2 separate regions of the Homo sapiens genome follow, and region 1 is linked to region 2. Evidence: fine-mapped expression QTL. A gene starts in region 2. The other region holds a variant in brackets. All regions are shown on one strand. Distances are between the middles of the regions.

The links. PIP is the estimated chance that this variant, and not a neighbour inherited with it, causes the effect.
Region 1: its variant is fine-mapped to the expression of SLC6A16 in whole blood (TOPMed, PIP 0.97).

What each region holds. Positions count from the first base shown.
Region 1 is chr19:49,273,235-49,289,778 of GRCh38, forward strand. SLC6A16 (solute carrier family 6 member 16) reads right to left here. Exons shown (of 12, transcript NM_014037.3): 12 at 16,404-16,544. It also overlaps the pseudogene SUMO1P4. Among named protein-coding and RNA genes, the nearest start is that of MIR4324, 27 kb to the right of the region's middle. The variant C/G (reference allele first, on the strand shown) is at 9,100.
Region 2 is chr19:49,316,190-49,332,308 of GRCh38, forward strand. It overlaps SLC6A16 (solute carrier family 6 member 16), which reads right to left and starts at 9,002. Exons shown (of 12, transcript NM_014037.3): 1 at 8,859-9,002. RefSeq lists an enhancer at 10,166-10,315 and a silencer at 11,109-11,260.

The DNA of each region.
Region 1 (16,544 bases), 43 kb before region 2:
TTATCAGTTCCCTCATGGTTAATATTTTCTAAAAGCTATTTAATACATCTTTCTTTCTTTTTTTTTTTTTTTTTTGAGACAGAGTTTCGCTCTTGTTGCCCAGACTGGAGTGCAATGGCGCGATCTTGGCTCACCGCAACCTCCACCTCCCAGGTTCAAGCCATTCTCCTGCCTCAGCCTCCCGAGTAGCTGAGATTATAGGCATGCACCACCACACCTGGCTAATTTTGTATTTTTAGTAGAGATGGGGTTTCTTCATGTTGGTCAGGCTGGTCTCAAACTCCCAACCTCAGGTGATCTGCCCGCCTCGGCCTCCCAAAGTGCTGGGATTACAGGCATGAGCCACCGCGCCCGGCCCTAATACGTCTTTCTTAACCCCCAGATCATGAAGTTATTCTTCCACATAACTTCTAAACACTTTATAAATTTGCCTTTCATGCTTAAATCTGTTAATCCTCATGGATTAACACTGTTCTTGATAATAATAATGATTATAGGCTGGGCATGGTGGCTGACCCCTGTAATCCCAGCACTTTGAAAGGCCAAGGCGGGCAGATCACCTGAGGTCAGGAGTTCAAGAGCAGCCTGGGCACGATGGTGAAACCTCATCTCTGCCAAAAATACAAAAAATTAGCTGGGCATGGTGGTGCATGCCTTTAGTCCCAGCTATTCAGGAGCCTGAGGCGCAAGAATCTCTTGAAGCTGGGAGGCAGAGGTTGCAGTGAGCCAAGATCATGCCACTGCACTCCAGCCTGGGCAACAGAGAGACCCTGTCTATAATAATAATAATGGTTATAGGTTTTGGCATAGAAGTTTTGTATTTTTTTTATTAGATCTATTCCTAGGCACTTAAAATAGCTTCATGTTATTATAAATGTTATCTTTATATTTTTCATTACCTATTTATTTCTTGCTGGTATGTAGAAACGCTACTAATATTGTTCTATTAACCCTGTATCCAGCAACCTTGATAAACTCACTCATTAATCTTAGTACTGTATTTATAGATTTTTTTTTTTTTTTTTTTTTTTTGAGACAGAGTCTTGCTCTGTCACCCAGGCTGGAGTGCAGAGGCCCGATCTCGGCTCACTGCAATCTCCATCTCCCAGGTTCAAGCGATTCTCCTGCCTCAGCCTCCCAAGTAGCTGGGATTTCAGGCGTGCACCACCATGCCCAGCTAATTTTTGTATTTTTAGTAGAGACGGGGTTTCATCATGTTCGTCAGGCTGGTCTTGAACTCCTGACCTCGTGATCCGCCTGCCTTGGCCTCCCAAAGTGCTGGGATTACAGGCGTGAGCCACTGCGCCCGGCCAGATTTCCTTTTTTGGGCGAGTTTTGCTTTCTTCTTGCATACTAACCTATCTCCTTTTTATTATAAAATACACATATTCCAAAAAGTGTACAAAACTGAAATGTTCACCTGAATGATTTATTGTAAAGCAAATGCCCCAACCATCCTAGCCAAGATTGAAATCTGAGTATCAGGAAACAATATTTAAGATTAAAAGTACCGAGCACATTAGAGACGTATGGTACATGCTCAACACGCAAAGAAAAAAATAACAGCCACAAGCCTATATGTACCAAACAACTGGAGAGCTAAATATTTAAGGCAAAACACGTATAAAACCAAAAAGAAATTGATCAAAATATAACTACGATGGCAATTATCATACAACTTTTTCAGAACTCACAGATCTAATAGAGAAAAAAAAGGACATAGAGAAATTGAATAATGCAAACAAATACGATTTAATAGATACTTAGTCATATTAGAAATGAACAATTTTAGGGAAGGGAGATGGATTTGTGAACCCTGGAGTGCGGTTCTGCCTACTCGAGGCCGCTGCTGTGTGGAGACCCCTGGGTGAAGCCACTGTCATCATGTCTGACCAGGAGGCAAAACCTTCAACTGAGGACTTGGGGGATAAGAAGGAAGGTGAATATATTAAACTCAAAGTCACTGGACAGGATAGCAGTGAGATTCACTTCAAAGTGAAAATGACAACACATCTCAAGAAACTCAAAGAATCATACTGTCAAAGACAGGGTATTCCAATGAATCCACTCGGTTTCTCTTTGAGGGTCAGAGAATTGCTGATAATCATACTCCAAAAGAACTGGGAATGGAGGAAGAAGATGTGATTGAAGTTTATCAGGAACAAACGTAGTGGGGGGCGGTCATTCAACGGCTTATTCTTTTTTTATTTTCCCTCGATCCTTTAATCCTTTATTTTTAAAAATAGTTCCTTTGTAATGTGGTGTTCAAAACGCAATTGAAAACTGGTACCCCATCTCTTTGAAACATCTGGTAATTTGAATTCTGGTGTTCATTATTCATTATCATTTGTTTTCATTGTGCTGATTTTTGGTGATCAAGCCTCAGTCCCCTTCATATTACCCTCCTTTTTTTTTTTTTTGAGACGGAGTCTCGCTCTATCGCCCAGGATGGAGTGCTGTGGCGCGATCTCGGCTCACTGCAACCTCCACCTCCCGGGTTCACTCCATTCTCCTGCCTCAGCCTCCCGAGTAGCTGGGATTACAGGCACCCGCCACCACGCCTGGCTAATTTTTTGTATTTTCAGTAGAGACGGGCTTTCACCGTGTTAGCCAGGATGGTCTCGATCTCCTGATCTTGTGATCTGCCAGCCTCGGCCTCCTAAAGTGCTGGGATTACAGGCGTGAGCCACCGCGCCCAGCCTACCCTCTCCTTTTTAAAAATTACGTGTGCACAGAGAGGCCACCTTTTTCAGGACATTGCATTTTCAGGCTTGTGGTGGTGATAAGTAAGATCGGCCAATGCAGGTGTTCATAATGACTTTCCAACTGGCCCTGATGTTCTAGCATGTGATTGCTTCACTCCTGGACTGTGACTTTCAGTGGGAGATGGGAGTTTTTTCAGAGAACTGAACAGTGGAAAAACGACCTTTCCTTAACTTGAAGGTACTTTTAAAATTTGAGGGTCTGGACCAAAAGAAGAGGAATATCAGGTTGAAGTCAAGACGACAGATCAGGTAAGAGTGATGCCTAACTCCAAAGATGGCTTCACTGAAGAAAAGGCATTTTAAGATTTTTTTTAAATCTTGTCAGAAGATCCCAGAAAAGTTCTGATTTTCATTAGCAATTAATAAAGCAATACACGTAGAAATGAATAAGGCAGAACACTGCTCTTTTTTATTTGTTCTTTTTGGCCTGGGATATGGGTTTTAAATGGACATTGTACCAGCTTCATTAAAATAAACAATATTTGTAAAAATCGTAAAAAAAAGAAATGAACAATTTTAAAAGAGAAAATAACCTTAATGACTTGGAAATTAAGAAATATGCTTCTGTGGTGAGAGGGTCATTTGAGCTCAGGCGTTCAAGACCAGCCTAGGCAACACAGCAAGACACCCATCTCATATCTATATATCTATCTATATATATATATATATATATATATACACACACACACACACATACATACACACACACTTCCAGATAATCCTTGGATTAAAAAGAAGCTAAGTAGAAAATTACAAAGTTTCCAGGTAGCATAAAAGTGTGTGTGTATATATATTTCCAGATAATCCTATACACACACACACACACACACAACCCCACACACACACTTCCAGATAATCCTTGGATTAAAAAGAAGTAGAAAATTACAAAGTTTCTAGGTAGCATAAAAAGGAGATTTCATATCAAAACCTTTGACATACAGCAAAAATTACACTTTACTGAAGACTAAAGATGATGAATAAAGGAACTTAATACTCCCCTTAAGAAATCAGAATAGGCTGGGCGCAGTGGCTCACGCCTGTAATCCTAGCACTTCGGGAGGCTGAGACAGGTGGATCACTTGAGGTCAGGAGTTTGAGAAATCAGAAGAATAAAGACAAAACAAACTAGAAATTGTAATTATAAAGTTGACATTAATAAGATAGAAAATAAAGTAAAAATGCTAAGTAAATCCAAATGCCACTTGTGAATCTGATTGAGAAAAAGATAAATAAAAATAACAAAATGTAAAAAATGAGAAAAGAGACACAGCCATCAAATTTAGAATTTTAAGGACATATGCTATATGAAATCCTAGGTCAACAAATCTGAAACCTTAGAGGAAACTGAAAGTGTCTGGCAAATGTAAATTACTAAAAATAATCCAAGAATTTTGGGGAAAATTAATGGAAAGGGTTGGAAAGATGAGTAGAGATTTACTGCACAAATGGGCTCTGGGACCAGATGGGTTCAGAGATGAGTTCGATTTAACCTTTAAAAAGCAGATGGTTCTAATGTCAATTACACCAGGCTGCTCAAAGTGTGGCCCACGAATCCTAAGCATCACCTGGGAGTGTGATAAATGCAAATTAATGAACCTGAATCCAGATTCACCACATAAAAATCACTAGCGGGCGGCCGGGTGCAGTGGCTCACGCCTGTTATCCCAGAACTTTGGGAGGCCAAGGCGGGCAGATCACGAGGTCAGGAGTTCGAGAACAGCCTGGCCAACATGGCGAAACCCTGTCTTTACTAAAACTACAAAAATTAGACAGGAGTGGTGGTGCACGCCTGTAATCCCAGCTATTCGAGACGGCTGAGGCAGGAGAATCGCTTGAACCTGGGAGGCGGAGGTTGCAGTGAGCCGAGATCGCACCATTGCACTCCAGCCTGGGTGACAAGAGCAAGACTCTGTTTCAAGAAAAAAAAAAAAAAATCACTAGAAGATGGGGCCCAACGATCTGTTTAACCAGCTTTCCAGGTGACTTTCAGCATACTAAAGTTTGAGCAGCACTGGCTTAGGATCACAGAAAAAATAAAGAGCGCCTCAATTTACTTTCTGAAGCTAGCATAACTTTAATGCCAAAATTTATAAAAAGTAGAAAAAAACCCCTCATTTACAAAGACGAGATGAACAAGCTAAATATTAGCAAGTAGAATCTAGAATATATCAAAAGGATAATACATTACACCTAAGTAGAATTGATCCCACAAGGAGAGTTCAATATTTAAAATTCTATCAACAAGTCCACTAAATGCTAAAAAGCCATTTGGCAAAATGCGGCAGTTCTATGAATATACTAAATATCATTGAATTGTAAACTTTTTTTTTTGAGACGGAGTTTTGCTCTTGTCCCCCAGGCTGGAGTGCAATGGCATGATCTCAGCTCACTGCAACCTCTGCTTCCCAGGTTCAAGAGATTCTCCTGCCTCAGCCTCCCAGGTAGCTGGGATTACAGGCACCCAACACCATGCCCGCCTAATTTTTGTGTTTTTAGTAGAGGTGGGGTTTTGACATATTGACCAGGGTGGACTAGAATTCCTGACCTCAAGTGATCCACCCACCTCGGCCTCCCGAAGTGCTGTGATTACAGGAATGAGCCGCCATGCCTGGCCGAATTGTAAATTTTAAATAGGTTGATTGTGTGGTATATGAATCACATTTCAATAAAGCTGTCACAGAAGACTATCTTAGGCCTCTGGACAAAAGGGAGCTTGGGAGTGTCTGGTAGACATCTCTGATAGCAATAACTTTCCTTAACCCTACCCTTATGGCAGATACACCTGACAGCAATAACTTAAGCTGCCTCTGAGAATGAGGGTTGCCACGTAGAGGTTGCTAGGGGAGGATGCTAAGTGAAAGTGCCCTATGAACTGCATTTTTTTTTCTTTTTTTTGAGACAGAGTCTCGCTCTGTCACCCAGGCTGGAGTGCAGTGGTACCATCTGAGCTCACTGCAACCTTGCCTCCCAAGTTCAAGCGATTCTCCTGCCTCAGCCTCCCAAGTAGCTGGGACTACAGGCGCCCGCCACCATGCCCAGCTAATTTTTATATTATTAGTAGAGACGGTTTCACCATGTTGGCCAGGCTGGTCTCGAACTCCTGACCTCAAGTGGTCCACCTGCCTCAGCCTCCCAAAGTACTGGGATTACAGGCACGAGCCACCGAGTCTGGCCTGAACTGCATGCTTTTTGCAAATGGTTGTAGTTCTCCTGTCCAGTCCACCACCACTGGCCCATGCTGCAAGTTCCCCCAAATAAGCCCTGTGTTTTGTGTGCTGGCTCTGGGTCTCTTCTTCAGCCTCTTGAACTTGGTGCCATGGCTACTGAAGTTAACAGGCATTTGGCACGACAACCGATGATCCCAGCAGGAGGTTGGAGAAAATCCTGTGCACGCAGAGTCGATGGGATTGGAGAGGAGAATATCATCGGGGGGCATCTCGGGCTGGCTGTCCACGTCTGTGTGGGGCCCAACAGCCACTATCCTTGATGGATGAGGCCCAAGGCATGGGTACAGAGATGCCCCCAAAACACTGAAGGGTCTGGAAGAGCTATTGCAGGAGGTGGATCTAACTAAGCAAAAGTTAGATGCCTGAGCTGTGGCAGCTGCGGTTGGCTGGCCACTCCTGACTGTGCTCTGAGCAGCCTCGGGGGCCGGGCTCATGGCGCAGGTGAAGGTGCATCCATTACAAGATGAACTGCGATGACAAAGAGATGCCTAATTAGATCAGACTGAAACATCAGAGACCGACTGTCCTGCCTGCAGGCACGGGATGACAAAATGGAGAGACCCTGGCTTGTCAGGTATGGTCCATTTGAAAAGCTGCTGGCTGCTATGTCAATGAGTTAGGGCCCTCATGACTAAATCATCCTGGGACCCTAAGTTCTGGGACCCCATGGAGAGCTCTAGTGGGGAAGAGAGTGAGGCCTGGGATGAGCTCATGGAGGTGCCCATCCTCTCTGCACGTTTGCTGGTCAACACCAAGATGAAAGCCGACCAACCACAGACATAGGGGGTCACCCTGCAAGACTTGCCCCTGCCTGGAAGACACCATAGTGCGGGATTCCACGGCTGTGGAGTTGGTGGAGCTGGGAACTAGGTTCAGGAAGAAGGGCAGAGAGTCGGTCACAGGGTGGCTTCTCTGTCTATGGGACATGGAACAGAGATGAGTGAAATGGCATCCATCACCAACCATCCAGCCCTGAGGCGGTGCCTCGATGGCACCAATAATGACGATCGGGCCACCCCCTCCTTAGCCGGGTGGTTGCAAGCTGCAAGGCAGCCTGGCCAAATGAAAGGAATGTCCCAGCTGGGTGCAGTGGCTCAGGCCTGTAATCCCAGCACTTTGGGAGGCCGAGGCAGGAGGATCATGAGGTAGGGAGTTTGAGACCAGCCTGGCCAATATGGTGAAACCCCGTCTCTACTAAAAATACAAAAATTAGTCGGGTGTCGTGGCAGGTGCCTGTAATCCCAGCTACTCGGGAGGCTGAGGCAGAAGAATCGTTTGAACCCGGGAGGCGGAGGTTGCAGTGAGCTGAGATGGAGCCATTGCACTCCAGCCTGGACAACAGGGCGAGACTCCATCTCAAAAAGAAAGAAAGGAATGTCCCCACATCTCCTTTGTGATGACAGATTATGGAGGAATTGAGGGACATCCTCTGGGAATTAGGGGTGATGCTTGCTATCTACACTGAGCATTACCGAGGCCCTGACAAGGAGCTTTTCACTGCGGGCATGAGAAATGCCATCTTACAGTAGGCACACTACCAATGGTGTGGCACACTGGCGTCTATCTTGAGTCCCTTCATAGGAATCACTTGAACCTGGGAGGCGGAGGTTGCAGTGAGCCAAGATCGTGCCACTGCACTCCAGCCTGGACCACAGAGTGAGACTCCGTCTCAGAAAAAAAAAAAAAAGGCAAAAAACCAAGAATGCATCCAGGAGGCAAGGTGGCTTACGCCTGTAATCCCAGCACTTTGGGAGGCTGAGGTGGGCAGATCACGAGGTGAGGAGTTCGAGACCAGCCTGACCAACATGGTGAAACCCTGTCTCTACCAAAAATACCAAAAGTTAGCTGGGCACCTGTAATCCCAGCTACTCTGGAGGCTGAGGCAGGAGAATCGCTTGAACCCGGGAGGTAGAGGTTGCAGTGAGCCGAGATCGTGCCACTGCACTCCAGCCTGGTGACAGAGTGAGACTCCATCTCAAAAACAAAACGAAACAAAAAAACAAGAATGTACAGGCTGTTCCCAGCGGATACTGGAGCTGAATGCACTCTCGTATGTGGTGACATCCGTGGTTCCAGTGGCCTATAACAATAGATGGTCGGTGGGGGCGGGGGTCGTGAAAGTCAGACAGGTTGAGCTAGTATTACAAGTTAGGAGACTGCTGCCCAAACCCTATTTAGTATACAGAGCTCCTATCCCAGATTACATCTTGGGAAGGGCTGTCTCATCAGGACTGTGACCCTCTGAATTGCGACTGAGTTAGGATGGTGAGGCGCGTGATCAAGGGGAATGCGAAATGGACACCAGCACAGCTGCCAGCCCCTCTGTGAATAGCAGCATTGAAACGACAACACCTGGCCGGGCGCGGTGGCTCACGCCTGTAATCCCAGCACTTTGGGAGGACGAGGCAGGCGGATCACGAGGTCAGAGGATCCAGACCGTCCTGGCTAACACGGTGAAACCCTGTCTCTACTAAAAGATACAAAAAATTAACCGGGCGCGGTGGCGGGTGCCTGTAGTCCCAGCTACTCCGGAGGCTGAGGCAGGAGAATGGCGCGAACCCGGGAGGCGGAGCTTGCAGTGAGCTGAGATCGTGCCACTGCACTCCAGCCTGGGCGACAGAGCAAGACTCCGTCTCAAAAAAAAAAAAAAAAAAGAAAAGAAAAAAGAAACGACAACACCTGCCAGGAGGTCATGATGAGATCATAGGGACTGAAAAGGAAAGAAGTCTGGGTAGACATTATAAGACCAGTGAACAGCCCATACAATAGCCCTGCATGGCCCATGTGGATGCCTGATGGGACACGGAGAATGACATATTACTGGGAGTTCAACAAAGCCGTCCCCCTAATGTATGCAGCTGTTCTCATATCGCCTCCTTTCTTATGAGGATAAGAGAGGGACTGCACGCACCTCATTTTGTCATTGCATTCACCTGGTATATTAGTCCGTTTTCAAGCTGCTATAAAGAACTGCCCAAAACTAGGTAATTCATAAGGGAAAGAGGTTTAATTGACTTACAGTTCAGCATAGCTGGGGAGGCCTCAGGAAGCTTACGATCACAGCAGAAGGCAAAGGGGAAGAAAGGCACCCTCTTCACGAGGCCGGG[C/G]GAAGGGGGGAAGAGCCCCTTATAAAACCATCAGATCTCGCGAGATCTCACTCCCTGCCACGAGAACAGCATGGGGGAAACCGCCCCAATGATTCAATTACCTCCACCTGGTGTCTCTGACACGTGGGGATTATAGAGATTTCAACTCAAGACGAGATTTGGATGGGGACACAAAGCCTAACCCTAGCTGGGCGTGGTGGCGGGCGCCTGTAATCCCAGCTGCTCAGGAGGCTGAGGCAGGAGAATGGTGTGAACCTGGGAGGCGAAAGTTGCAGTGAGCCGAGACCACGCCATTGCACTCCAGCCTGGGCAACAGAACGAGACTCCCTCTCAAAAAAAAAGCCTAACCTTTTCACCTGGGAAGGAGAACAATATACCTTTACTGTCTTGCCGCGGGGATATTTCCATAGCCTCACTATCTGTCAACGCCTAGTGGCCACAGACCTCAGTAGATGGACTACCCTGGAGAGGGTACATGTTTTCCTTTACATTGATGTTAAATTCTGAGTCTTTTGCCAGCTAACTTCTGAGTCTCTATAGCCCTCACCTTGCTGTCTCACTTGGTTAACAGAGGATGGGCGGTCAATGCAGACAAAGGCAGGGTCCAGGCTTATCAGTCCAATACTTGGTGTCATCTGGTTGGGTAAGACTAACGGTGTTCAATTTGCCATTCTACATATGGTGCAGGCCTACCCACATCCTACACCACCAAAGTGGCTGCAAACCTTCTTAGTTCTTCTAAGGCCGTGGTGTCCTTTTATTTCCCATTTGGCTCAACTCCTTAGGCCACTGTACCACTTAGTCAAGAAGGGGGCCAACTGGGACCAGTGGCAAAGGCAAGGACACAAACTTGTACCTTTAGGATTCTGGTTCCAGCTATGGAAGGGGACTGAAGTTACAGTGTCAGGGAGCTATAATTCTGCACTACGTGTTATGCCTTACAGCAAGTGGAAGATGTTCCAAAGGGGTTCCCATGCTAGTACATACCCAGTACCCCATAGTAGGTTAGCTGGGATTACAGGTGCCCGCCACCACGCCCACCTAATTTTTGTATTTTTAGTAGAGACAGGGTTTTGCCATGTTGGCCAGGCTGGTCTCAAACTCCTGACCTCAGGTGATCCGCCCACCTTGGCCTCCCAAAATGTTGGGATTACAGGCGTAAGCCGCCACGCCCAGCCAGCCTGTGCATTCTTAGGTGACCAATATATAGTTAGCTAGCTCTATATGTGGCCGCCAGTCTCCAGACACTCAGCCACCATTGCTCTTATCGGGATCCTGAGGCCTTAGCCTTTATCCTAGTCGAAAGTAGGACACCTTCCAGAAACCAAAATCTGGGAATGCCCAGAAACAGATTGTGGCCAAATGGCACGCATGCCTGCAACAGAGGAGTACACGAACTAGCACAGGGTTCCGTTTGCTGCTTGGCCCTGTCACCTATGTGACAGCTGAAGGACAGTCTTTGACAAGGCACTGAGCCTCCACATATTCCCTCCTTTATATAAGAGGGACAGGCCCCAATTCCTGACCAGGCCTGGTACACAGATGGCTTGTCACGAGGCAATCCTTCCACCTGTATCCAGCTGTCCACTGAGAGTATCTGGCTCGATACAGGCAAAGGACATGTAGCCAATGGGCTGAGCTGCCTGGATGGTTTCTTCTAGGAGCCGGACCCAACAGTCCTGTGCACTGACATCTGGGCACCATCTTTAAGGGGCCCACCATGTGCCTACTACAAGGAGAAACACAGGATTGGATGGTAGCAGGCAGCCCCCTTTGGGGGGCTGATATAGAAGAACATTCTCCACTGCACCTGGGGGATGCATGTAACAGTCTAGCGTCTGGATGCCCACACTGCATAATATCCCTATTGTCTTACTCCAGCCTCATGTGACACTTTGTAGAGAGGGGGCCAACCTATTTGGTATTGCAAACCAAGCACCAGGCCACTCTCGGGGTGATGCTGTCTCAGAAGGACACAACTTCCTGTTTCTTGTAAAATGACCATGAGGCTGGGTGCAGTGGTACATGCCTGTAATCCCAGCACTTTGGAAGGCCGAGGTGGGTGGATCACCTGAGGCCAGCAGTTTGAGACCAACCTGGCCAATATGGCAAAACGCCACCTGTACTAAAAACAAAAAATTAGCTGGGCATGATGGCGGGCGCCTATAATCCCAGCTACTTGGGAGGCTGAGGCAGGAGAATCGCTTGAACCCAGGAGGCGGAGGTTGCAGTGAGCCGAGATCCAGCTACTGCACTCCAGCCTGGGCAACAAGAGTGAAACTCTGTCTCAAAAAGAAAAAAATGACCATGACTTGCCCCTTCTTGTACTCACTAAACATCTCACTTTTCACCCATAGATGGTATGCAGCAAACCTCTTGCCAGCTGAGCACAGACGGTGGTCTCTCTCCAGAACAAAACAGACTGTTGGGTCTGCAGAGAGCTGCCCCTCTCCTCCACTGCGGGCCTGCCGTGGTGCCTCGCAGCAGTTAACCTGAGTACCTGAAGCCACTTTTATATTCATTATTTTTTCTGTTGTAGTTTGTATTGCTGCTGTGGTGTCTGGCTGCAATGCTCCTCCGCATACCTGGCCCCAGGGAAATGGTGGAAGAACGGTACAAGAATGTGAGGGCCATTCAAAGGTATGCTAGAGTGGCCAGGTCGCAGTGGCTCACGCCTGTAAACCCAGCATTTTGGGAGGGCCGAGGCATGTGGATCACTTGAGGTCAGGAGTTCAAGACAAGCCTGGCCAACATGGTGAAACCCCATCTCTACTAAAAATACAAAAATTAGCCAGGTGTGGTGGCACATACCTGTAATCCCAGCTACTCAGGAGGCTGAGGCAGGAGAATCACTTGAACCTGGGAGGCGGAGGTTGCAGTGAGCCAAGATCGCACCACTGCACTCTAGCCTTGGCGACAGAGTGAGACTCCGTCTCAGAAAAATGAAAAACAAAAACAAAAAAAACACAGCAAGGTGGGTATGCTGGAGTGAGGGTATATGGTAGACGCACCTGGCAGCAATAACTTAAGCACACCCTGAGGATAAGGGCTGCCGCATGGAGGTTGCTGGGGGAGGGTGCTGAGTGAAAGTGCCATATAAACTGCATGCATTTTGCAAGTGGGTGTGGTTCTCCTGTCCAGCTCATCACCACTGGATCACCCTGTAAGTTATCTCAAATAAACCCTATTTCTCGTTTGCTAGCCCTGGGTCTCTTCTTCAGCCTCTTGAACGTGGCGCCATCCCTATTGAAGCGTCCCGCATGTCAGGGATGCAAATTAGAAAGCAGAATTAGGCCAGGTGCAGTGGCTCACGCGCTTTGGGAGGCTGAGGCGGGCGGATCCCTTGAGGCCAGGAGTTCGAGCCCAGCCTGGCCAACATGGCAAAACCCCTATCTCTACTAGAAATACAAAAATTAGCTGGGCACAGTGGTGTGCGCCTATAATCCCAGCTACTTGGGAGGCTGAGACATAAGAATCGCGTGAGCCCAGGAGGTAGAGGTTGCAGTAAGCCGAGATCGTGCCACTGCACTCCAGCTTGGGCAACAGAGCGAGACTGTCTCAAAAAAAAGAAAAAAAAAAGGCTGGGTGCAGGGGCTCACGCCTGTAATCCTAGCACTTTGGGAGGCCAAAATGGGCAGATCATGAGGTCAGGAGTTCGAGACCAGCAACTCTCGAGACAGGGCTACATGTGACTCTCGAGACTGTCTCGAGACTGTCTAGAGACAGGGCAACATGGTGAAACCCTGTCTCTACTAAAAATACAAAAATAGCTGGGCGTGGTGGTGCACCCCTGTAATCCCAGCTACTCAGAAGGCTGAGGCAGGAGAATTGCTTGAACCTAGGAGGCAGAGTTTGCAGTGAGCCAAGACCGAGACACTGTACTCCAGCCTGGGCAACAGAGCAAGGCTCTGTCAAAAAAGAAAGAAAGAAAGAGAGAGAGAGAGAGAGAGAGAGAGAGAGAGAGGGAAACACACTAAGAGAGAAATAAAATATTTTTTCTTTCTTTCTTTGAGATGGTAAGCCCCTACTTTTCAATCCCCCTCTCCCAAGTTCCACCTCCAAAACTGGACCGGGGATGGTGGGGAGGTAGGTGGGAGGGGCCTTGAGGCAGAAGGGAGGATGAGTGCCCTGGTTCCCAAAAGGGAGGAGGTTGAAGACCCAGACTATTTGATGAGAAGGAGGAGCCCACCGCCTTCTCTCTCCCATCCCCACATTACCCGATTCAATAGTGCAAGTCTTCAAGCAGATAGAGCATTTGGAATTTGGGGGGTGGATGGGCTGGCCTAATAGGGCACAGGAGCCAATGGGTGATGACACAGAGGTGCACGCCCCTCCAGCCCTCCTATCTTCAAGCTTGAAGAGCCAGACTTCAGAGGTCTGGAAACTTCAGATGCCTCTGCTCTTTCCTTTCTGCAGATCCACCTCTTGAGTCCTGCCTGCCAATGGTTGGGGGTGTCTTCTTTTCCTTTATCACTGAAACTTACCCGTGGGCTCTAAGCAATCTAAAAGCCTGAGATCTCTGAGCATTTAAGGGAAACCCATTCCCTGGATCTTTGGGAATCCCAATCACCTCTGTCCACAGCCCCCATCCCCAGCAGGTAACTGACAGGCCCCCCAGTCTCCTTTTGGGGAGTACTTCAGCACCCTCATGGCACTACCCTCCCACAAGTTCTTAAAGACCCACTCAGTGATCATCCACTGGGCAAGTTCAGTTGATTTGACCCTGGGATAAAAACCAGTGGTGCCCAGTACTGAGCAGAAATGGGACTCTTGGTGAGCTCAGTGAAACAGCTTGTTAGTAACTGGTTGTGGCACTGATTTACAGATGTACTCAGTCCACAACACAATGTTCAAACCTTGAGTGCAACCTCTTTTTAGAAATAATTTTAGACCTATAATAGGATTATCATGTATCAGTAGCAAGCACATTAATATCTTCCCCATCTTTGTTGAAGTCACCATTTCCCAGGTTTCCCTTGGCTAAAGGCCAGCCCGTGGATAATGCAAGCCTGGTAATCTAGTATCTGAGTTTGCCAGAGCAAGGGGAGGGCAGGAACTCAGGGCTGGACATTTAGCTTTAGAAAGACTGTGATATGGTTTGGCTGTGTCCCCATTTAAATCTCAACTTCAGTTGTATCTTCCAGAATTCCCATGTGTTGTGGGAGGAACCCAGGGGGAGGTAATTGAATCATGGGGGCTGGTCTTTTCCATGCTGTCTCATGATAATGAATAAATCTCATGAGATCTGATGGGTCTATCAGGGATTTCCACTTTTGCTTCATTTTCTCTCTTGCCACCACCATGTAAGAAGTGCCTTTCACCTCCCGCCAGGATTCTGAGGCCTCCCCAGCCATGTGGAACTGTAAGTCCAATTAAACCTTTTTGTTCCCAGTTTCAGGTATGTATTTATCAGCAGCATGAAAACTAATACAGTAAACTGGTACCAGTAGAGTGGGGTGTTGCTGAAAAGATACCCAACAATATGGAAGCAACTTTGGAACTGGGTAACAGGCAGAGGTTGGAACAGTTTGGAGGGCTCAGAAGAAGACAGGAAAATGTGGGAAAGTTTGGAACCTCCTGAAGACCTACTGAATGGTTTTGACAAAAATGCTGATATGAACAATAAGGTCCAGGCTGAGGTGGTCTCAGATGGAGATGAGGAACTTGTTGGGTACTGGAGCAAAGATGACTCTTTATTATGTTTTAGCAAAGTGACTAGTGGCATCTTGCCCCTGCCCTAGAGATTTGTGGAACTTTGAACTTGAGAGAGATGATTTAGTGTATCTGGCAGAAGAAATTTCTAAGCAGCAAAGTATTCAGAAGGTGACTTGCGTGCTGTTAAAAGCATTCCGTTTTAAAAGGGAAACAGCATAAAAGTTCAGAAAATTTGCAGCCTGATGATGCAGTGGAAAAGAAAAATCCATTTTTGAGGAGAAATTCAAGCCAGCTGCAGAAATTTGCATGAGTAGCAAGGAGCCTAATGTTAATCCCTTAGACCATGGGGAAAATGTCTCCAGGCCATATCAGAGACATTCATGGCAGCCCCTCCCATCACAGGCCCAGAGGCCCAGGAGGAAAAAGTGGTTTTGTGGGCCAGGCCCAGGGTCCCCATGCAGTGTGCAGCCTAGGGACTTGGTGCCCTGTGTCCCAGCCACTCCAGCCATGGCTGAAAGGGGCCAACGTACAGCTCGGGCTGTGGCTTCAGAGAGTAGAAGCCCCAAGCCTTGGCAGCTTCCACGTGATGTTGAGCCTGCGGGTGCACAGAAGTCAAGAATTGAGGTTTGGGAACCTCCGCCTAGATCTCAGAAGATATATGGAAATGCATGGATGTCCAGGCAAAAGTTTTCTGTAGGGGCAGAGCCCTCATGCAGAACCTCTGCCAGGGAGGGAAATGCAGAAGGGAAACGTGGGGTCAGAGCCCTCACACAGAGTCAGAGTCCCTACTGGGGCACTGCCTAGTGGAGCTGTGAGAAGAGGGCCACTGTCCTCCAGACCCCAGAATGGTAGAACCACTGACAGCTTGCACCCTGAGCTTGGAAAAGCCACACTCAACACCAGCCCGTGAAAGCAGCTGGAAGGGGGACTGTACCCTGCAAAGCCACGAGGTGGAGCTGCCTAAGACCATGGGAACCCACCTTTTGCATCAGCATGACCTGGATGTGAGATCTGGAGTCAAAGGAGATCATTATGGAGCTTTAAAATTTGACTCCCCTGCTAGATTTTGGACTTGCATGGGCCCTGTAACCCCTTTGTTTTGGCCAATTTCTCTCATTTGGAATGGCTGTATTTACCTGATACCAGTACCCCCATTGTATCTAGGAAGTAACTAGCTTGTTTTTGATTTTACAGGCTCATAGGTGGAAGGGACTTGCCTTGTCTCAGATGACACTCTGGACTTTTGGATTAATGCTGAAATGAGTTGAGACATTGGGGGACTGTTGGGAAGGCATGATTGCTTTTGAAATGTGAGGACATGAGATTTGGAGGGGCCAGGGGCAGAATGATATGGTTTCACTGTGTCTCCATTTAAATATAAACTTCAATTATATCTCCCAGAATTCCCACGTGTTATGGGAGGGAACCAGGGGAGGTAATTGAATCATGGGGGCTGGTCTTTTCCATCCTAATCTCGTGATAGTGAATAAGTCTCATGAGATCTAATGGGTTTATCAGGGGTTTCCACTTTTGCTTCTTCCTCATTTTTTTCTCTTGCTGCCATCATGTAAGAAATGCCTTTCACCTCCCACCATGATTGAGGCCTCCCCAACCATGTGGAACTGTAAGTCCAGTTAAACCTCTTTTTGTTCCCAGTTTCAGGTATGTCTTTATTAGCAGTGTGAAAATGAACTAATACAGACTGGAAGCCTTGTGACAGGAAAACTGAACATCTGAGACATCTATAGGAAAAAAAGATCTGCTTACATCCAGTCCTTGGAGTTCCAGTA
Region 2 (16,119 bases):
TAAATATAGAGTAAAATCCTGGGAAGGTAATGGCAATAACAGCAACATTGTTTTAAAATCTTCCCAAATACTCACATGAAAACAAGTAGTTCTACTAGATTGCAAGCCCAAAATCCATGGATAATATTTACAATATCAAGATAAACCCCAAAAGACAAGTCTATGAGAACAAACCACAAGAGCCACAGACCTGTATAGAATCAGCATCTGTGTGGGAGGAAACAAAGGAAGCAAGAGAGCATCTGACAGACCTGGGGATGGGGGACAGGGAAACCAGTCTCTCAAAATAATCAACAGGTACTCACCAGAAATCATGGGAAGGCTATTAGAGAACAGCAGCTAAAACTAGAAGATGTCTTGCCTAATCCAATAACAGTTGAGTGCATGGAGTCAACAATAGAAACTGAAGGGACCAGGGCAGACTAGATTCTATGAACTCTTAAAATTAACCAACCAGGGATCTTTTCCAACCCAGAGGCCACAATGAGGAGAAATTCCTGTGAGTAAAGCCAAATTGAGCAATACAAGAACAAGAATGATGAAGGATAGGCCAGACACAGTGGCTCATGCCTGTAATCCTAGTACTTTGGGAGGCCAAGGCAGGAGGATCACTTGAGGCCAGGAATTCAAGATAAGCCTTGACAATGCAGTGAAAACCCATCTCTACCAAAAAAAAAAAAAAAAAATTAAAATTAAAATTAGCCAGGCATAGTGGGACACGCCAGTGGTCCCAGCTATTTGGGAGGCTAAGTGGAGAGGATCGCTTGAGCCCAGGAGTTCAAGGTTGCAGTGGGCTATGATCACACCACTGAACTCCAGCCTGAGCAACAGAGTGGGACCTCATTCTCTAAAAAAATAAAATAAAATAGGCCAGGTGCAGTGGTTCATGCCCGTAATCCCAGCACTTTGAGAAGCCAAGGCAGGAGGATCACTTGAAGTCAGGAGTTTAAGACAAGCCTGGCCAATATGGTGAAACCCCATCTCTACCAAAAAATACAAAAATTAGCCAGGCATGGTGGGACACACCTGTAGCCCCAGCTACTCGGAAGGCTGAGGTGAGATAATTACTTGAATCCAGGAGGGGGAGGTTGCAGTGAGCCAAGATTGCACCACTGCACTCCAGCTTGGGCAACAGAGTAAGACCCTATCTCAAAAATAATAACAATAATAATAAAATAAAATTAATTAATTAAAAGATAATTTTAAGAAAACATAGAAATGAAGGATATACAGGATCCAGATAAAAATGGGGAGAAGAAATTTCCACTTTTGACCATGAAAGCAAAACAGTGTCTGGAGTTACCTCCACAAAAACACTACAAAACTGTACAAATAGGCCAGGCGCCGTGGCTCACGCCTGTAATCCTAGCACTTTAGGAGGCCGAGGCGGGCGGACCACGAGGTCAGGAGATCAAGACCATCCTGGCTAACATGGTGAAACCCCATCTCTACTAAAAATACAAAAAATTAGCCGGGCATGGTGGCGGGCGCCTGTAGTCCCAGCTACTCGGGAGGCTGTGGCAGGAGAATGGCGTGAACCCAGGAGGTGGGGCTTGCAGTGAGCAGAGATCGCACCACTGCACTCCAGCCAGGGCAACACAGCGAGACTCCGTCTCAAAAAAAAAAAACTGTACAAATAATTAAAACAACTATTTTCACATATTAAACAAAGGCAGTACAGCATTGCAATCTCTAAAAAAAGGCCAGAAAACAAGGTAACTAATTGCACGATTGCCCCATTTTTCTGCTAATTTCCAAACTTTGGCACAGGAGGAAGAATACAAACAGAGCCTGGCAGTCTCAGCACTTGAGGAGGCAAAAGTCAGTTCAGGAAGGCTTAGGTGACTAGAATTAGCTGGGCTAAGTACTCAACAGAAGGGAGCCACAGAGAAAGAGCTCTAGGAATCTGGATAAAGTACCTTCGAGCCATTAGCTAAATATCAACCTGCACATGTATAGTATGAAACCTCATAAGAACAGGCAAAGAATAAATTCCAAGGAAAGAAAAGTACTGGGGAACTACAGGTAAAACAATTCCTAGAACTTGGAGAAGAACAAGAATTACTCAAGTTTCCATCAGCCAGTGTGGAGAGACTTTACTGAATACTTGGAACATTTAAAGTGGCATAAACTAGCTCTAGTTCTAGTAGTAGGACTACTTTAGACCTGAAAAAAAAAAATTCTTAAAAGCAACCCTTAAACAGCCAAAACTGATCTTCAAGTAACTTAACTGCCTGTCACAACAAAGGCCAACATTCCTTAAGATAATACAGACAAACCTAGCACTGAACAACAAAAAATTCATAATGTCAACCATCTAGTCAAAAATTACTAGACATGCAAAAAAGCAGGAAAAGTGACCCATAATCAGACAACAAAAACAGAAATGATAGACTAATGGAATTAACACACCATAACACTAAAATAGCTGTTACAAATATGCTTAATATGGTCAAGGACTTAAAAGGAAAACATGAACAGAATGAGGAATATAAGATAGCTAGATAGCTAGCTAGCTAGACAGACAGATAGATATTTTCTCTTTTGAGACAGAGTCTCACTCTGTTGCCCACACTGATCTCAGCTCACTGCAGCCTCTGCCTCCAAGTTTCAAGCAATTCTCCTTCCTCAGCCTCCCAAGTAGCTGGAATTACAGGTGTGCACCACCACAACTGGCTATTTTTTTTTTTTTTTTTTTTTTTTAGTAGAGACAGGGTTTTGCCATGTTGGCCAGGCTGGTCTCGAACTCCTGATCTCATGTGATCCAGCTACCATGGCCTCCCAAAGTGCTGGGATTACAGGCATGAGCCTCCATGCCTAGCCATGATATATTTTAAACATCAAATAGAACTTCTAGAGATGATACAACACCTGAAATGAAAATTTCACTGAAGATTACTGGCAGATTTTAATAAATCAGTGAACTTAAAGATATAGCAATAGAAACAATCCAAAATGAAGCACAAAGAAAAAAAAAAGACTGAAAACAATTACCAGAGCATTAGTGACTGTGAGACAATATCAAATGGCCTAAAATGTGTAACTGGAGGTCCAAAATAAAGGGAGGATGGGAAAATGAAACCAGGCCAATTTTCCAACAAGCCAGATGCCCATAGAACTGAAGCTTGAGAAACTTACATTTGTACAATGAGATGAACCTGCTGTATGTTGACCAAGTACTCTTCTTTACTCCTCCCTAATTCCTTCATATATGTGTGTGTGTATATATATATATTTGTATATACATATAAATACATATACATATACATATGTGTATATGTGTATATGTATATACATATACTTATACATATATGTGTATATGTGTATATGTATATACATATACCTATACGATATATACATATACATATATATATCAAGAAAAGACTCACATAATTGAAAGGATAAAAGGACAGTTCTACAATAATAACTGGAGACTTTAATACCCCACTACGAACAATGGACAGAAGCAGCAGACAGAAGATAAGCAAGGAAATAGAGGACTTAACACAATAAACCAACCAGATCTAACAGATGTATTCAGAACACTCTAGCCAACAGCAGCAGAATACACATTCTTCTCAAGTGCACATGGGACATTTTCCAGGAGAGACCACAAATTTGTAGGCCACAAATTTCCTTTTTTTCTCAATAGAATTAGAATGATAAATATCATACAAAATATCTTCTCCAGCCACAATAGGATGAAGTTAGAAATGAATCACAAAAGTAAAATTGAAAATTTTACAAATTTGTAGAAATTAAACAACACACTCTTAAACAACCAATGGATCAAAGAATAAACTACAAGGGGAGTTAGAAAATACTTACAGATAAATGAAAACGAAAACACACATACTAAAATTTATGGGAGGCAACAAAAGCAATGCCAAGGGGGAAATTTATAACTATCAATGGTTACATTAAAAAACAAAAAAGAGGCCGGATGCAGTGGCTCACGCCTGTAATCCCAGCACTTTGGGAGGCTGAGGTGGGTGGATCATTTGAGGTCAGGAGTTCAAGACCAGCTTGACCTACATAGTGAAACCCCATCTCTATTAAAATACAAAAATTAGCTAGGCATGGTGGTGGGCGCCTGTAATCCCAGCTACTCAGGAGGCTGAGGCAGGAGAATCGCTTGAACCTAGGAGGCGGAGGTTGCAGTGAGCCGAGATCACACCACTGCACTCCAGCCTGGGCAACAGAGCAAGACTCCCTCTAAAAACAAACAAACAAACAAACAAAAAAAAACCAGATCTTGAATCAATAACCTAACTCTAAAACTTAAGAAACTAGAAAAGCAAACTAAACCCAAAGCTAGCAGAAGAAAATAATAAAAATTAAAGCAGAAATGAATAGAGAATAGAAAAACAATAGAGAAGCCAAAAGTTGTTTCTTTAAAAATATCAACAAAATTGACAAACCTTTAACTAGATGTACTAAGAAAAAAAGAGAAGACTCAAATGATTAAAACCAGAAATGAAAATGGGGACATTATTACCAATTCTACAGAAATAGAAGGATTATAAGAGAGTACTATGAACTTATGAACAACTGTACACCAATAAACTGGATAACCTAGATTAAATGGACAAATTCCTAGAAATACAAATCTACTAAGACTAAATCACAAACAGAAAATCTGAATAGATCTATAACTAGTAAGGAGATTGAATTGGTAATCAAAAATCTCTCAACAAAGAAAAGCTCTGGACCTGATGGCTTCATGGGTGAATTCTACTAAACCTTTAATGAATTAATATCAATCCTTCTCAAACTTTTCCAAAAAATTGGAGAGGAGGGAACACTTCCTCATTCATCCTATAAGGCCAACATTGCCCTAATACCAGAGCCATACAAAGACATTATAAGAAAAGAACACTACAGACCTATATTCATTATGAACTTTGATGCAAAAATCCTCAAAAAAAATACTACCAAACCTAATTCAGCAGCATATTAAAAGGATTATATACCATGACCAAGTGGGATTTATTCCTGGAATGCAAGGATGGTTCTGCATACAAAAATCAATCAATATAATATACCACATTAACAAAATGAAAGAAAAATAATGATTCTCTCAACTGATGCAGAAAAAACATTTGACAAAACTCAATACCCTTTCATGATAAAAAAAAAAAAAAAAACTCAACAATCTAGGAGTTAAAGGAAAATACGGCTGGGCATGGTGACTCATGCCTGTAATCCCAACACTTTGGGAGGCCTGATGACCACTTGAACCCAGGAGTTCAAGACCAGCCTGGGGCCAGGTGCAGTGGCTCACATCTGTAATCCCAGCACTTTGGGAGGCCAAGGCGGGTGGATCACCTGAGGTCAGGAGTTCAAGACCAGCCTGGCTAACATGGTGAAACCTGATCTCTACTAAAAATACAAAAATTAGTCAGATGTGGTGGTGTGCACCTGTAGTCCCAGCTACTTGGGAGGCTAAGGCTGGAGAATCGCTTGAACCTGGGAGGCAGAGGTTGCAGTGAGCCAAGATCATACCACTGCACTCCAGCCTGGGTGACAGAGCAAGACTCCATCTCAAAAACAAACAAACAAACAAACAAACAAAATTTTTAATTACCTGGGTGTGTTGATGTACTTCTGTAGTCCTAGCTACTCATGAGGCTGAGATGGGAGAATCACTTCAGCCCAGGAGGTCAACGCTACAGTGAGCCATGATGACACCACTACACTCCAGCCTGGGTCACAAAGTGACACCATGTCTCAGCAAAAAAAAAAAAAGGAAAATATCCCAACATAATAGCCATATACGAAAAACTCACAGCAAATGTCATACTTAATGATAAAAGACTGTAAGCTTTTCCTCTAAGATTAGAAACAAGCGTAGAATGTCTAATTTTGCCACTTTTATTCAACATAGTACTGGAAGTCCTAGCCAGAGAAATTAGGCAAAAATATAAATAAATAAAAGGAAACCAAACTAGAAAGATTATATGATCTTATACGTAGAAAATCCTAAAATTTTCACCAAAAAAATTTTTGAGCTAATAAATGAATTCAGCAAAGTAGCAGGATACAAAGTCAACAATCAAAACTCAGTTGCATTTTTATACACTAACAATGAACAATCTGAAAAGAAAATTATGAAAACAATTCCATTTGTAATAGCATCAGAAAGAATAAAATACTTAAGAATTAACTTGGCTGGGCACGGTGGCTCAAGCCTGTAATCCCAGCACTTTGGGAGGCCAAAGTGGGCAGATCACCTGAGGTCAGGAGTTCGAGACCAGCCTGACGAACATGGAGAAAACCCGTTTCCATTACCAAGTTACCCAGGCATGGTGGCACATGCCTGTAATCCCAGCTACTCAGGAGGCTGAGGCAGGAGAATCACTTGAACCTGGGAGGCAGAGGTTGCAGTGAGCCGAGATTGCACCATTGCACTCCAACCTGGGCAACAAGAGTGAAACTCCATCTCAAAAAAAAAAAAAAAAAGAATTAACCAAGAAGGTGAAAGACATGTACAAAGAAAACTACAAAACATTGCTGAAAAAAATTAAAGGAGACATAAATAAATGGAAAAATATCCCATGTTCATGGGTTGGAAGACAACACTGTTAAGATGTCAGTATTACCCAAAGCAATCTACAGAATTAGTAGCTTTTTTTTTTTTTTTTTTTTTTTTTTTTTTTTTTTTTTTTTTTTTGCAGAAATAGAAAAACACGTCCTAAAACTAACATGAAATCTCAAGGGACCCTGAACAGCCAAAATAATCTTGAAAAAGAAGAAAAACGCTGGTGTACTCACATTTCCTGATTTCAAAACATATTACAAAGCTATAGTAATCAAAATAGTGTGTTACTCACATAAAGATACAGACCAAGGGAACAGAATAGAGGGCCCAGAAACAATGTATGGAAAAATGATTTTTTACAAGGGTGCCAAGACTACTCAATGAGTAAAGGACAGTCTTTTCAACAAATGGTGCTGGGAAAACTGGATTATGTACAGGCAAAAGAGTAAAGATGGACTCTTACCTAACACCACATACAAATACACAAAATAAATCAAAGACCTAAATGTAACACTTAAAATTATAAAATTCTTAGAATAAAACATACGACAAAAGCTTCATGATAGTGGATCTGCAATGAATTCTTGGATATGATACCAAAGGCAAAAGCAACAAAAGAAGAAACAAACAGGATTTCATTAAAATGTTTTAAATTTGTGCATCAAGAGACACTATCAAAGGGGTGAAAAGATAACCCACAGAATGGGAGGAAATATCTGAAAATCATATGTATAATAAGAGATTAATATTCAGAATATATAGAGAACTCGTAAAACTCAACAACAAAGAAACAAACAACACAATTCAAAAATGGGCAAAAGACTTAAATAGACATTTCTCCAAGGAAGATATACCAATCTCCAAGAAGTACATGAAAAGATGTTCAACGTCACTAATCATTAAGGAAATGCAAATGAAAACTACAATGAGATAATACCTCGCATCCATTAGGATGGCTAATATAAAAAGGCAGAAAATAAGAAGTGTTGGTGAGGATGTGGAGAAATTGGAATCCTTGTGCCTTGCTGGTCAGAATGTAAAATGGTGCAACCACCATGGAAAACACTATGGTGGTTCCTCAAAAACTTAAAAATAGAATTACCATATGATCCAGCAATTCCACTTCTGGGTATACACCCAAAATAAGTGAAAACCAAGCCTCCAGTGGCTCAGCCTGTAATCCCAGCTCTTTGAAAGGCTGAGGTGGAAGGATTGCTTGAGCCCAGAAGTTCGAGGCTGTAGTGAGAGGTGATCATGCCACTGGACTCCAGCCTGGGAGACAGAGAGAGACCCTGTCTCTTAAAAATAATAATAATAGGCTGGGCACGGGGGTTCACACCTGTAATCTCAGCACTTTAGGAAGCTGAGGCGGGTGGATCGGCTGAGGTCAGGAGCTCGAGACCAGCCAGGCCAACACAGTGAAACCCCGTTTCTACTAAAAATACAAAAAATTAGCTGGGGGTGGTGGCGCACGCCTATAGTCCCAGCTACTTGGGAGGCTGAGGCAGGAGAATCGCTTGAACCTGGGAAGCAGAGGTTGCAGTGAGCTGAGATCGTGCCACTGCACTCCAGCCTGGGTGACAGAGTGGGACTCCATCTCAAATAAATAAATAAATAAAAAATAATAGATTCATGTTTCTTAAACACATTCTAGAACAGTTGTCCTTAAAAGCAAGCTTTACGGAAGGGAGAGAACTGAGTTTTGGCCAGCTGGCCACTTCCAACATCCATAAAGCCCCTTGAGCCCCAGGCGGACTCCTCTTCCCATATGGGTGCAACCCTCCATGGTGCCCCTACACCGTCATCCCAAGCAACTCCTAGGCTCATGCCCTGTGGGGAGTGCTCAGGATCCCCCAGAAATGCCCATTCCCCTCACATTACCTCCTTCCCTGGAACTATAACCTCCAGAAAAGGAAAATAAGGAGCTGGTGTCCCATTTCTGCAAAAAGCAGAAAATAACTGCCCTAACAGACCAGTGATGGGGCTAGACCCGGGTTTCTGCCACTCGGGCACTTGACACTGATGGCTTTCCCCAAAGGCAGGGACTGATGGCCGAATCCTGTCAAGGAATTGGCTCAAACTCGGACTGGATGAGTGAGGAGAGCCGAAGACAGTTTCCTCTGTCCTACGTGGGGGGTAAAGGAGGGACCCCTTTGATCCCTCAGCTCCACAGAGCCCAGGGCAACCAGGAGGCTCCCAGCCAGTCACCTGTCACCCGTCAGTGGAGCCCAGTGGGCCCGGGCCTCGAAAATGGCGCCCAGCCCCACACACCCCAGATGTGGGAACATTTTAGGGCTCCCTGGGCCGTGACCCTCACCCTAGCCCCAAGGCTTCTGCCAGGTTCTTCAGTCCAGCCAGTCGGACAAAAATGAGGGTGAAGAAGCCCCAGCTGAGAAGCCTAGCAATCTCCTCAGGCCCCTTCAGGCGTCGACAGATCGGTTTGGGCGACACCCCTCGATCTGCCTGGCGCGCGGCCTTTCCCGCCGATTCTCTGCGCATGCGCCGCCGCGCCCCCTCACTCTTTCCCTACAGCTGTAGCAAACACTGTAACCACTTCGCCCTCCCCAACTCCCTGCTCTCTCCCCACACGCACGCACGTGTGCACATCCTCTGACTGCTCACGCGCCACTCCCTTCCCCACCGCACCCCACCCCGACACCCACGATGCCACGCTTCAGGCGGGGCTCTAAGACAAGGCCTTTCTCTGGCACATGCACTTTGCTTCCACTTCATGTAAGGAAGAAGAGGGTAGGAAGTGGGAGAATCGTCTCATTCATTCCTTCTAGCCTTCAAACCTTTCGCATTTACTTAAAGATCGCCTACTAGAAACCAAACCTTAAATATGCGTCCAACAAGGCAGACAGGGACGTTGCCTTAAGAGAGCTCAGAAGCCTACTAGGGCTGCAGACAAGAATTAAAAACTCAAAGATTTACTTAGGTCATCCGTTCTCATACTTTCCGGTCTCTTAAGAATTATTAAGGACTCCAATAATTTATGAGTTACATTTATATGGGTTGTATGTTTATGTGAGTTGTATCTATCAATATTAAAATAAATTTCTAAAATAGTCATTGTTTAAAAATTCATTATGTGTCAAAATAACATTTTTATTTAAAATAACTATAATTTCTACTCCAAAAGAAATTTTGGCGCTGGGCGCGGTGGCTGACGCCTGTAATCCCAGCACTTTGGGAGGCCAAGGCGGGTGGATCACGAGGTCAGGAGTTCGAGACTAGCTTGGCCAACATGATGAAACCCCGTCTCTACTAAAAGTCAAAAAAAAAAAAAATTAGCCGGGCGTGGTGGCACACACCTGTAATCCCAGCTACTCGGGAGCCTGAGGCAGGAGAATCGTTGGAACCCAGGAGGCAGAGGTTGCAATGAGCCGAGATTTTGCCACTGCACTCCAGCCTAGACAACAGAGCAAGACTCCGTCTCAAAAAAAAAAAGGAAAAAAAAGAAAAAATTTGGGGAGAAGAATGGCATCATTTTACATTTTTGCAAATCTCTCTAATGTCTGGCTTCATAGAAGACAGCTGGATTCTCATATCTGCTTCTGCACTGAGTGTGTCAAAATAGCTCATGTCTTGTAGCTTCTGGCAAACATCACTATATTCAAAGAGGAAATGAAAGTGAAAGGCAAATAATATCTTAGTAGTATTATGAAAATAATGTTCACCTCATGGACCCCCAAAAGTGTTTCAAGAGCCCCCAGGAGTCCCTGAGCCACACTTTGAGAATGAAAGGCTTAAATTGTTATGATTGAACAAAGAGATGAAGAGGAAATTTTGGGGGTGCTGTAAGAATTCATCACAATCTTTGGGAATCATTCAATCTTTCAACACGTATTTATCGAGAGTCTACTAAATGCTAGGAACTGGGAATAGTGTAGAGAACAAAACAGACCCCATTCCTGCCCTCGTTTTGCTTCACACAACAAGAAAACAGATATATGATGAATCTCAAATAATTACATGATTATAAATTGTATTAAGTGCTATGACAGGCCGGGCATGGTGGCTCACGCCTGTAATCCCAGCACTTTGGGAGGCCAAGGTGGGCGGATCACATGAGGCCAGGAGTTCAAGACCAGCCTGGCCAACATGGTGAAACCCCATCTCTACTAAAAATACAAAAACGAGCCAGGTGTGGTGGTGCACGCCTGTAATCCCAGCTACTCGGGTGGCTGAGGCACAAGAATCACTTAAAACCATGAGGCAGAAGTTGCAGTAAGCCAAGATCACACTACTACACTCCAGCCTGGGTGATGGGGTAAGACCCTGTCTCAAGGAAAAAAAAAAAAGTGCTGCGACAGAAAAGGGCCACAGACCTATTTATTTCTATCGAATTTTTTTTTTTTTTGAGACAATCTCACTTTGTCACCCAGGCTGAAGTGCAGTGGCATAATCTCGGCTCACTGCAACCTCTGCCTCCCGGGTTCAAGCAATTCTCCCTGCCTCAGCCTTCCGAGTAGCTGGGGTTGCAGGTGCCTGCCATTACGCCTGGTTAATTTTCATATTTTTAGTAGAGTCAGGGTTTAGTAGAGTCAGCCTGCCATGTTGGCCAGGCTGGTCTTGAACTCCTGACCTCAGGTGATCCGCCCGCCTCAGCCTCCCAAAGTGCTGGGATTACAGGCGTGAGCCACTGCGCCCGGCCCATAGACCTAATTTAGAAGGAGGATTTCTCTAAGGAAATAACACTGGAGTTGAGGCTTAAAGGATTATTTGCTAGGTGAAAAATGTGTGTGAACATCTCAAGCCTTGAGGCTGTGCAAAGGCCCTGAGGCAGGGCAAACTGTGTGTTCAAGGCACCAGGAAAAGTCTCAGTCGGTCAATAAATATTTATTGAATGATGTGCCCCACACTGTCCTAGACCCCTGGGATATAGTTATGAAAAAGATTTTACGTTCCAGTTGCACAAAGAAAGTAAATGCCTAAATAGAAAGAATTTCAGAGAGTAAGAGTGCTGATAGGGAGTTACTTTAGACAGGGTAGTCAAGAAGGACTCTTGGGGAAAGTGATATTTCAGCAGAGAGCTGAAGGAAGGGAGCCTTGTGAACAGCATAGGGAAGAACATTCCAGGCAAAGAAAATGGCAACAGCAAAAGCCTTGAGGCAAGAAGTACACTTGATGGGTTCTGGAAATGGCAAAGAGTCTGATATGAATGGATCCCAGTGATTGAGGAAAGGGTAGCAACAGATCAGATCAGAGCAGTGGCAGGGGCCAGAGTATTATTTGGAGGCCCTTATAGGTCATGGTCGGAATTTTTTTCTTTTTTTTCTGGGTGAGATGAAAGCTATTTGAGGGTTCTGAGTCAAGGAGTGACTTTCATTTTAATGGCAGGCTCCCCCTGGCTTCTGGGCAGAGAATAGCATGTATGGGTGTATTCCTCTGTTTTCACACTGCTGTAAAGAACTGCTCAAGACTGGGTAATTTACGAAGAAAAGAGGTTTAATTGACTCACAGTTCAGCTTGGCTGGGGAGGCCTCAGGAAACTTACAATCATGGCAGAAGGCAAAGGGGAAAAAAGGCACCTTCTTCACAAGCAAAGGAGGGAAGAGCCCCTTATAAAACCATCAGATCTCATGAGAACTCACTCACTATCACAAAAACAGCCTGGGGAAACCACCCCCATGATTCAGTTACCTCCACCTGGTCTCTCCTTTGACACATGGGGATTATGAAGATTATAATTCAAGATGAGATTTTGGGTGGGGACACAGCCAAATCATAGCAATGGGCTAAAGATAGAAGCAGAGAGCCCAGTGAGGAGGAAATCTCTAGTCCAGGCAAGTGATGGTGTTGATTAGATCTGGGTAATAGCAATGGAGATGGTGAAAAGTGGTCAAATTCTGGATCTATTTCAAGAATAGAGCCGACATGATGTGTTGATGGATTGTGTGGTGGTTTTAAAATACGTCTGCAAATTCTTCAACACTTTGAAAGATAAAGTCTATTTCCCCAATCTTTGAGTGCAGGCTCTCCTTAGCAACTGGCTTCCAATGAACATAAGTAATGGTGGGGAACTTCAGGACTAGGTCATAAAAAGCATTGCTGTTTCTTACTTGCCCATTCCCTTCAACTGATTTCTGTAAAGGAAGCCAGTCACCATACGGTGAGGACACTCAAGCAATCTGTGAAGAGATCCATATAAGAGAAGAGCTGAAATTTCCTGCCAGCAACCAGCACCAGGTGAGTGAACCATGGTGAAGTGGATCCTCCAGCCGTAGTTAAATCTCCAGATGACTACAGCCCCAGCCAACATCTTGACTGCAACCTCATAAAACACTGTGAGCAGAAATCATCCAACTAAGCTGCTCCCAGATTCCTGACCCACAAAAACTACAGTAGGTAAGAAATGTTTATTGTGTTTTTTTTTTGAGATAGAGTCCTGCTCTGTTGCCCAGGCTGCAGTGCAGTGGTGCGATCTCAGCTCACCACAACCTCCGCCTCCCAGGTTCAAGCAATTCTCCTGCCTCAGCCTCCCGAGTAGCTGGGACTACAGGTGGGACCACATCCAGCTAATTTTTGTATTTTTAGTAGAGACGGGGTTTCACTATGTTGGTCAGGCTGGTCTCGAACTCCTGACCTCGTAATCTGCCTGCCTCAGCCTCCCAAAGTGCTGGGATTACAGTGAGCCACCGCTCCTGGCCTAAGAAATGTTTATTGTTTTAAACTGCTAAATTTGGGGTAATTTGTTACAGAGCATTAGAAAACTAATGGTGATTAGGTTTGGGGTCTGAGAGAAAGAGAGGAATCAAGAATGACTCAGCCGGGAGCGGTGGCTTGCACCTGTAGTCCCAGCACTTTGCAAGGGCGAGGTGGGAGGATTGCTTGAGGCTAGGAGTTTGATAGTAGGATACTAGCCTGGGCAACATAGCAAGGCCTTGTCTTTTTTTTTTTTTTTTTTTTTTTTTGAGACAGTCTAGTCTCGCTCTGTCGCCCAGGCTGGAGTGCAGTGGTGCGATCTCCACTCACTGCAAGCTCTGCCTCCCAGGTTCACACCATTCTCCTGCCTCAGCCTCCCGAATAGCTGGGACTACAGGCGCCCGCCACTACGCCTGGCTAATTTTTTGTATTTTTAGTAGAGACGGGGGTTTCACTGTGTTAGCCAGGATGGTCTCGATCTCCTGAACTCGTGATCCGCCCGCCTCGGCCTCCCAAAGTGCTGGGATTACAGGCGTGAGCCACCGTGCCCAGCCCGGCCTTGTCTCTTAAAGGAAAGAAAAGTGTTTTTTAATAGCCAGGTGTGGTGGCACGCATCTGTTGTCCCAGCTACTCAGGAGGCTGAGTGGGAAGATCACTTGAGCCCAGGAGATTGAGGCTGCAATGAGTCATGATCGTGCCAGTGCCCTCCCACTTGTGTGACAGAGCAAGACCTCAAAAAAAAAAAAAAGACTCCAAAACTTTGGGCCTGAAGAATTGGAAGATGGAGTGACAATTTACTGAAAAGGAAAGTACTGGAGTGTGCAGGAGGTGGGAGGGAATCAATAGTTTCGTTTTGGGCGTGTTAAGTTTGAGATGTCAATTATACAGCCAAAGGCAGAGGTTAAGTTGTCCTTCACTGCAAGGAGACCTGGGAAATGAATCTTCCTGAGTCCGCAGTTCAGGGGAAAGTTTGAGGCTAGGCATATAAATTGGTAAGTCAACAGTATTGTAGATTGCGATGAACACTATGGCACTGCATGATATCATCTCGTGAGTGAGTGTAGCTAGAAAGGGCTAGGACTCCCCAAATTTTAGAAGCTAGAAAAAGGACGATCCAATGAAGATTGAGGAGAACCAGCCAGTGAAGAAGGAAGGAGGAAAAGCAAGAGGGAATTTGCCAGTAAAGGAGGAGGGGATCAGGTGAATTCAATGGGTAGAATTGCTGTTCTCAAACGTTAGTGCACATCAGTCACCAGGAAGGCTTGTTAAAACACAGACTGCCAGGCCAGGTGCAGTGGCTTGCCTGTAATCCCAGGACTTTGGGAGGCCAAGGTGGGCAGATCACCTGAGGTCAGGAGTTCAAGACCAGCCTGGCCAACATGGTGAAACCCTGTCTCTACTAAAAATACAAAAATTAGCTGGGCATGATGGTGGGTGTCTGTAATCCCAGCTACTCAGGAGGCTGAGGCGGGAGAATCGCTTGAACCCGGGAAGCAGAGGTTGCAGTGAGCCGAGGTTGTGCCATTGCACTCCAGCCTGGGCAATAGAGTGAGACAAAAAAAAAACACAAAAAAAAAAACAGATTGCCAGGCCCGCCCCCAGAGTTTCTGATTGAGCAGGTATATTCGCTTCCCGAGACTGCTGTATAAATTACTACAAACTTGGTGGCTTAAAGCAACAAAAATATATTATCTCACAGTTCTGGATGCCAAAAGTCCGAAATTAAGGTGTCAGCACGCCACTTCCTTCAAAGGCTCAGAGGACAATCCTTCCTTGACTCTTCAGTTTCTGGTAGCTCCTGGTGTTCCACTTTTTTTTCCCCTGTAGGGTCTTGCTCTGTCATCCAGGCTGGAGTGCAGTGGTGCAATCACGGCTCACTGCAACTTCGATCTCCCAGGCTCAAGCAGTCCTCCCACCTCAGCCTCCTGAGTAGCTGGGACTGTAGGTACATACCACAAAGCCCAGCTAATTTTTTTGTTAATTTTTGTAGACAGGGTCTCACTATGTTGCCCAGGCTGGTCTCGAACTCCTGGGCTCATGTGATCCTCCTGCCTCAGCCTCCCAAAGTGCTGGAATTACAGGCATGAGCCACCTCACCTGGCCCATAATAATGTTTTGATATATATAGTGTATGCAGTAACAGGTATTCTATTTGTAGTTGTTAGGATGTTTAAGGTTAGCTGATTTAACAAACAACCGTAAAATCTTAGTAGCTTAATACAACAGGTTGTTACTTACATAAAGTCCAAAATGCTTTATGTAAGTCCAAGGATAATTCTCAGCTTCCTGCAGCCAGTGAGTGAAGGGAGAAAGAGTAAGGATTATGGAGGACATTTCAGGCTGAGTCTAGAAATGGGCTGTGTCCCTTCTGCACCCATTCCATTGGCCCAAGACCAGTCACATGGCCTCAACTTCACTGCAAGGAGACCTGGGAAATGAAGTCCTCCTGTGTGCCTAGGAAAGAAGAAACCAAGTTGGTGAGCATCAAAGCTGCAGTGAGCCGTGATTGCACCACTGCACTCTGCCACCTACCCTTCGACTTCTGGTTAATCATGTACTCATCTCTGAGGAGGGATCAGTGGGTGGGAAGGAGGGATTGGTGTATTAGTCTCCTATGGCTGAAATAGCAAATTACCACAGACTTACTACTTAGAACAACAGAAATGTATTCTCACATGGTTCTGTAGGCCAGAAGTCCAAAATCAAGGTGTCACCAGGGCCACACTCCCTCCAGAGGCTCTGAGAGAAAATCAGTTCTTTGCATCTTCCATCTCCTGGTGGCTCCAGGAGTTCCTTGGCTTGTGGCTGTAGAACTCCAATTTCTGTGTCTACCATCACATGGTGCTCTCCTCTTCTGTGTCTTCTCCTCTGTGTGTTTCTTAGAAGGACACTTGTCAGCCGGGTGCGGTGGCTCACGCCTGTAATCCCAG